2 linked regions of the Homo sapiens genome follow. The protein of the gene in region 1 interacts with the protein of each later gene in a pairwise test. Each region holds a gene or a part of one and is shown in the gene's direction. Other genes may lie near its edges.

Region 1 (3,749 bases):
GAAAGCAAAAACATGATTTAAATTTTCTTTAGACATTAATAATTTCACACTTTTAAAATAGGTAGGAAAAGGGCAAATTTGTCTTTTCAGAAGAATAATGCAGACTAGAATTGTAAAACAATGTTTCATCTCTTTTCTATGTCTAAATTTCAATGCATGCTTTCTTTTTAAAGAACAAAGATTTTTATGATAATTATTACTTAGAAAACAGGGTTCAAAAGCTTGGCTACTGCTTGTTGGATGTATATAGACCATATTGGGTAAATGAAGGAGGAAAGGGCTGTCTGTTTCTCTCCTTCTTTAGAGTGTATATAAATTGTGCAGTAAAATGACGGCTTTTCTTTACATCTTAATTCTTGTTGTCTTCACTATTATGTGCCTATTCCCAATTTCTTTCTCTAGTCTGGGACCCAGCAGCTCTTTGTTCTCATTGTGTCTGTCGTCTCCCTTTCTTTGTGTTGCAGGGAGATACTGCTACCCGCATCTGCCACTGAGCATGCGGGAAAAATCCTTCAATAGATTCTTTACTTAGGACTTTCAGTAGTATTACTCCATTTCTCCAGGTTTTGGTAATAACCAAAAAAAATCCTAAAGATATACCGAAACTTGGAAAGGTGATGGGTGATACAGGTGGTTAGGTGGTGGGCTAGCAAGCTGGGACACAGGGAAGGTTAAGGGAGTCATCACACGCATTTAGCTAATTTATGGAAGCGCTCACCAAGCATGTTAAATGCAGAACATCCACCCTGCACACAGAAGCTAGAGATGTAGATTAACAACTGAGAAGATACAAGTGTTTCTGAGCAGGAAGACACAAAACCATATCTGAAACCAATAGATACGATGTGTTAGCAGCTCCAGAGAAATGAGGTACATTGTCACAAAGATTGGTATGTAAAGTCCCTAGCAAGGACTTTCACTAGATAGTATATCATCTGAGGATGAGAACCAGTGGTGTAGATTTTTCTCATAATATAATCTCAGGTTTTCCTCTGATTGTGTTAAACACTCAAAATGCTAAGTCAGTCAGTATTCATTGAACACAACTCGATTAAATTCTTCTGCTTAAAAGCCTCTTTTAAAAAAAGCAGATTTGCTCGTTTTCCAAGTGGTAAGAAATAGCAGGTTTGCAGGTGAGATTAAAGTGTATTGGGTAGAATTCTGAGGTTTTCTGTTTTCTGCTTTCCCACCAGCAAGTCTGACTTTAATAACTTACACATTATTTAATAGAAGGAGCACTAAACAATTTTACTCATATTTCTCCCCATAACCATTTTTGCCTATTGTACTCATTGCCCGCATCACGAGCTCTTAGAATGGTTCCTGGCACAGAGTAGGTGCTCAAAGATCTTTTGTTTGGGGAATGCATGAATATACATAGTATGAAAAAAAAAGCAGTTCTTCTTTTATTGTGACAAACAATGATGGTAACAGTTCAAATTTGACTATTTTAGAATAAATAAGTAAACACTTGTCTCCTTAGCAGCTGGCCACTCTACCTCTTAGAGAGAGGGCTTTCTTCTCTTTCTTCTCGGTCTCCTGTCTCCCACCATTTTGCTTCTCTATTACCAATGAGAACATGAGTGGCATGGTCCCAAAGCCTTTCTGTTCCCCCTATCTCCACTTTTCGGTTTTTAGAATAACGATCCCCAGCCTTTAAGTTTTCTATAGGATTCGTTAGCCAGTGGCTATTAAGTGCTGTCACGGAGCCTAACAGAGAGCTGGGAAGGGAGCAAACCAGCGGGCCGGTGGTGCACTACTCGAGGGCCAGCACCTGCAGCTGCTTCTTTGGGAACCCCCTGGTCCCCGCAACCGCCTCAGAGACCCGCGCAGTTCACTGTCCCACCAAGCGGCAGGAGGAGGTGCTTGTGGCGGGAAAGTTCAGGCCAGGTCCAATCAGGCCCCTGGGATTAGGTAGCGAGGGTGGGTGCGGCTCCCCGGCCCCAACCCGGGCTGCCGGCCCCGCCCCCTGGGTGGGCTTCCCCACGGTTCTCCGCCCCCCCCCCCCCACCCGCCCCCTCGGCGCTCTTGCCCCGCCCCGCTCCGGGGCCGCGGCTAAAACCCGGAGCCGCCGCGACGCCCAGGGGACTGGAGGGACGCACTGAGCATGTGCAGATCAGCTCGGTGGTGGCTGCCGCGGCCGGAGGCGAGGGCCCGGTGCTGATGCGAACCGCCGGCTCGGCCTCAGCCCGCGCGTGGTCGGCCCCCCAGGCCGGGGCGACAGGGAAGGAGCCGTAGCCTCCCCGTGGCCCGAGGAGCCGGCGCGGCGGCGCGCACTCCCCGGCGGCCGCGGCGCCCTCGGGGCCCACGATGATGGCGGAGCAGGTGAAATGCGCCTCGGCAGGGGTCAGCTCTGGAGCGGGCTCCGGGCCGGTGGTGAACGCGGAGCTGGAGGTGAAGAAGCTGCAGGAGCTGGTGCGCAAGCTGGAGAAGCAGAACGAGCAGCTGCGGAGTCGAGCGGCCAGCGCGGCCGCCGCCCCGCACCTGCTGCTGCTGCCGCCGCCGCCGCCCGCCGCGCCGCCCCCCGCTGGCCTGCAGCCTTTGGGTCCTCGGAGCCCCCCGGCCGCCACGGCCACCGCCGCGGCCTCAGGGGGCCTGGGGCTCGGGCTGGCGCTGGGCGCGGGGGGCGGTGGCGGCAGCGGTAGTGGCAGCGGCGGTGGCTCCAGCCCCGCGTTCCCGGGCACCTTCTGCCTGCCTAGCCCCGCGCCCTCCCTGCTTTGCAGCCTGGCGCAGCCACCCGAGGCGCCCTTCGTCTACTTCAAGCCGGCAGCAGGCTTCTTCGGCGCGGGCGGTGGCGGGCCGGAGCCGGGGGGCGCGGGGACGCCGCCAGGGGCAGCTGCAGCGCCGCCCTCGCCGCCCCCCACGCTGCTGGACGAGGTGGAATTGCTGGATCTGGAGAGCGTAGCCGCCTGGCGGGACGAGGACGACTACACCTGGTACTGCCTGGCTCCGCTCCTTCCCCGAGACCCTGGCCTCGGGGGCTTCGGGCACCGGGGAGCGGGGGCGGGGGGCGGACGGGGGTCCCCTCGCGGCAGCCGGGGTGACTCCCCGCGGCTCCCGGAGGGGCCGACCCAGCAGGTGTTGAGCCAGGCGGTGACACTTCCCACGATGAGGCTTCTCATGAAGGCAGAAACCTGTTTTCTAATCGCTCCGACTGCGGATGAACCGGCCCCCCCTTCCCCCCATCTGCCATGGGTTCTGCTATTTGCTGATTGTTGGGTCCCAAGCTCCTCGTTAGCATTAAGTGCAAAATCCATGTCATCTTGTCTTTTTGCTCAGTGCTGCTCTTTTCCCCAGTGTTTTCGGAGGGATGACGGGGGATGGTAGGGGTTGGCCTCTGTCTGCGACTGTTACTGTTCTTTCGTTTTAAACGAACGCTGGACAGGATTTGCGTGCTCTTCCTCCTCGGGTGGCATCGGAAGCCGCGCAGTGATGGATCTCTCTTTATAGAGAGGTTCGTTCTTGCTGTTTGAATTTTGCAGTCGTGTGCCCTTTTGCGTTGCATTTTCATTGAAATCTTATTTTCAGAGACTGACTTGCTTTTTAAAATGGGGTGACCTCACTGGCTTTCCCATAAATAGTGCCAATAAAGAGGACTTTTCTTGGAGTGGAATGAACAGGTGGGAGGGACTTTTTTATTTATTTATTTATTTTTTTACCTAGGAACCAACGAACTGTCTTTAATTTTTTAAATTAAACTGTAGAAGAAAAGTGAGATTAGAGAAGCCTTATTTTCTTATTTCTTGGAA
Region 2 (3,749 bases), on another chromosome or scaffold:
AATTGGAGGAGCGTGGGAAGCCTTGCTCTTCTTCCTTTGTCAGTACTCTTCGGATTCCAGATGGATTACCTGGAATCACTACTCTCGCTAGCCAAAACTCATCTCTATGGTTCATCCATTATGGGTGAAGATAGAGCCAGAGATACACCTCAAGCCTCGCCTGCCTCCTTAGTCCCCAGTGCAGATTCTGCAGGTTTGAAATTCAATCTCCTTTATATGAAATCTAAAACTCTTGTACCAAAGCATCCAGAAGCATGATTTGTTGGAAATCTTTGTGGGCGTTGGGGGTTGTAGAGGGAAAGAGGTAGCTTTCCCACAGCCTACAGCCTTTTCTCTAATTTCTTTAACTGCTTTGAAAATCAGCAGAAACCAAAACACTTTTTGCACTGGGGAATGGGGATTAATCTCCCCCCAACCCCCGCCATACACACACCCTAATATACACCATTACACACCTACCGCCACATTAAACCAGCGAGTCTCTTCACGCACACCTCTCTTTTGTTCTGCCTGGAATCTACAAAAGGAGAAGCTCATTCGGCCCTGGTAATCCAGCTATACCTGTAATGTTATACCCTCCCCCCAAACAATTCGCTCCTTACACATCATCAAAGGCCTACTTGATTCCAATTAAGTCCGCATCCTTTGCTGTTTGATTACAATTAATATCTGCTGCCGTGGGGGGAGAGGTAACATGGGGGGAGGGGTAACATGGGGGAGGAGGGTTAGGAAGGGTGAGAGGCTAGAGAGGAAGCAGCAGAGAATAATTCTCCCCACCCAACTCACAGGCGCACCTCGCAGAAATGCAACCGCAGAACAAACAGGGACAGGAAACTCTTGTAATCGCTTACACATTTTTAATGTGTCAGAAAAAAAAGAGCGATCACTGGAGATGAAGAAGGGGAGAAGAAAAATCCCTGCCGTTTGTATTTCTTTCATTTGAATTGTAAACATCTGTTTGGCTGTAAGGCGAACAGATCATTTATTTTGCTCTCAAGATTTGGTCTAATTATGTCAACACCGACGCTACGACGAGTGGGGCGGCGCTGTGGCTTTGGAGAGGATGCGCGCACCGGCCCAGCGCCCGGAAGCCCGCTAGGAAGTATTGATCGCACCTGGAGAGCGCGCGGGACCTCTCGCCACAGCTGGGTGCGTTCTGAGACGGGGGAGGCGCGGAGGCCGTGAGTATGGCTCAGAGGCAGATTTAGAGGCTCCAGGGACCCGCGGCTCCTTGGAGACAGCCGCCGCTGTTTCCTCTGCCCCAGTAGCCTGGGATGAGAAGAGAAAAAGCTCACCCAGGCTCCGGCGCTTGTCTTTCCCATCCAGTTGCAGCACAGACGGTGGCGGGGTGTGTGTGTGTGTGTGTCGGCGGGGGGACCTGTCTTGTCCTACCCCGCAGTTCACACCCTGCAACGGGGTAGTTGTTTTTTTAAAAAAAAGTGGCGGGGTTGGGTGGCCTATAATCAGGTTGCCGAGCGTGCGTGCATCCATTTCCCATTGCACCTCCTTACAAGGTGGGGAGATAAGTAGAGCAAGTGTGAGCATCTTCATTGTTTAGATGGACAGACTAGACCCAGAGTCATTCGCCCAAAGTTGCGTGAGTCGATAGTTGGTCAAATTCTTACTTGTAGCCCGGTACTCTTTCCACTGCCCCACACTGTCTGCAGACACTGGCCAGATGTCCCCTGTTATGCCAAGGCAGCCAAGGTAAAGCCACCCCATGCTTCTTCAAACCGAATAAGATCTAACAAGATATGGCAGCTGGAGGATCTGCATCCATGTATTTTGTGCTAGTTTTGTCACACCTGAGCCAGAAGTCTCTGGCTGACTTCTTCCTGTAGCTATGGCAAAGTTATCCCTTTTAATGAAAGCCATGTCCTAGGCAAAGGACCTTGAGCAGATAGTTTCTGATTTCTTACCACTGTTACCATAGCTACCCATCAGAATTTGCAGCATCACTGAAAATAGAGAGCCCTATCTCCAAATTCCAAATTTAAAAATAGTGAACTTTGTGAAAGTATTGCTTCTGTGAACTGTATATGGAAAAGGGATGAACTCTGGAGAAGTTCTGCATGAATACACTGGCTATAGAATCAAAGACATTCTTAATTGTGATGCTGAATCTAGAATGATTATCACATAATTTCAATATGAGCTGACATGCAACACAAGCACCATGAGGAAGTTCAAGTAGTAACACTGGGGATGACTACTGTAAATGGCTTGGTGTGGGCCAACGTTTCATAACATTCTTCTTTGAGATCTCATCATTACCATCTGTAGTCTGGATTATCTTAAAGAAGTATCACTCCCTCAGCACCTTCAATCTAAAGGCAAAACCCTGGTGATATTGACCTACTACTTTTTTCCACCTCTCTAAAGAATAAATCACCAAGAAGAAAGATATCAGGTTCCCCAAGTTGCTGTAAACTCTACAAGTTGCCAAATCTTTAGCCAGGACTAGAGAGTTCCCCAAGGTTGCAGCAATGCCAGGTATCAAAGCAACAGAAATTCCCTTTAAAGATGCTGTGACATAAAAAATAAAAGACTCTAGAGTTGATGGCTAATCCTGAATACAAAATAAATCCTTCAGGCAATTTGTGTGTGCATAAAGCATACTCTTAATATGCAGCTTGTGTAACTTACCTAATAAATGTCTACTTGAGCATAAGCCAGAAGCCCAACCTAGATGTAGGAGAGGGAGACTCTGGGCCCAGGGAGTTAGCACGTGGGTAGATAGCAGACTCAGTGGCTTCCCTGGGAGCAGCTGGCTTTCAACACATAAGGTTCACTTTGCCAAAAGTCTTCCAGTTGGGGAGAGCCTGATCTAACAACTTCTTTTAAAAATGATAATCATCTACATCTCCCTAAATTAGGTTTCTAATCCACTGAAGATTAGTAAAGATAAGAAAGTTCTAAAATTGTGGTATTCCCTACCCTTAGCATCCAGGAAAATAATTCATACATATACTCAAACGCTCTGTTCTCTCACTTATCATAAACTTGAAGCTAACTGGCAACTGTGTGAGATTCCTTGTGTCCTCATTTGTATACTGGCTAGTATGCAAGAGAGGAAAGTTTATGTCAGAATATCAATTTGCTTATGATTTATAGTGACTGTGAGTAGAGATCCATTTTTAGAAGAGGGCTATGTGAATTTTGCATAAAGACATTGATTTCTCTTTGTTTAATATATTTGGGGTAGACTTATCTAATTCCTAAAATAATCAGGATCAAAATTCTCACAGTATGACTCTACACCACAGATTCATTAATACCTACCTTGCTTTCCTGTTCATCTAAAATTTTAAGAAGTCATTTAAGATTTTTTTTTGAAATGCATTTTGCATCTCTAAGTACAGAGTGAAACCGATAACAAAAGTGAAATGGTAGTCTTAGGTCCAGGAATCTGGGGGAACATTTTTATTGTTGTATTTTGGCTTAAAACTCGGTGAGAATATGAAGAGGGGGAAGTACAGGAGAATTTGTTTTTAGCTCCTAAAGCAGGTGTTTACATGGTTTGCCATTGTATTGGCTACAAGTTTGATGTCAAGAAATGGATTTTAATTTGACGATTGAGATTTTGAACTCTCAGATTTCTAACTGCGAACAGGTTTTCAGACACTGTCATGGAGGTTTTGGCAGAGTGCACAGGACCTAACTTCTAGCCTGAAGATGGTTGGCTACCCTGACATTCCCACTGATTACTCTTCTGGTTTTTGTTGGTTTGTTGTTTTTTGGAGGGACTT

Evidence for each region. The genes of interacting proteins can lie anywhere in the genome.
Region 2: the proteins of SLAIN1 (region 1) and TFAP2D interact in binary tests that used the Homo sapiens proteins (3 or more experiments, as listed by UniProt).

What each region holds. Positions count from the first base shown.
Region 1 is NC_000013.11:77,695,604-77,699,352, forward strand, and holds the start of SLAIN1 (SLAIN motif-containing protein 1), read left to right. Parts: upstream 1-2,083; 5' UTR 2,084-2,310; coding exon 2,311-2,936; intron 2,937-3,277; exon of another isoform or gene 3,278-3,320; coding exon of another isoform or gene 3,321-3,454; intron 3,455-3,749. UniProt on the Homo sapiens protein: Microtubule plus-end tracking protein that might be involved in the regulation of cytoplasmic microtubule dynamics, microtubule organization and microtubule elongation.
Region 2 is NC_000006.12:50,723,416-50,727,164, forward strand, and holds part of TFAP2D (transcription factor AP-2-delta), read left to right. Parts: intron 1-3,749.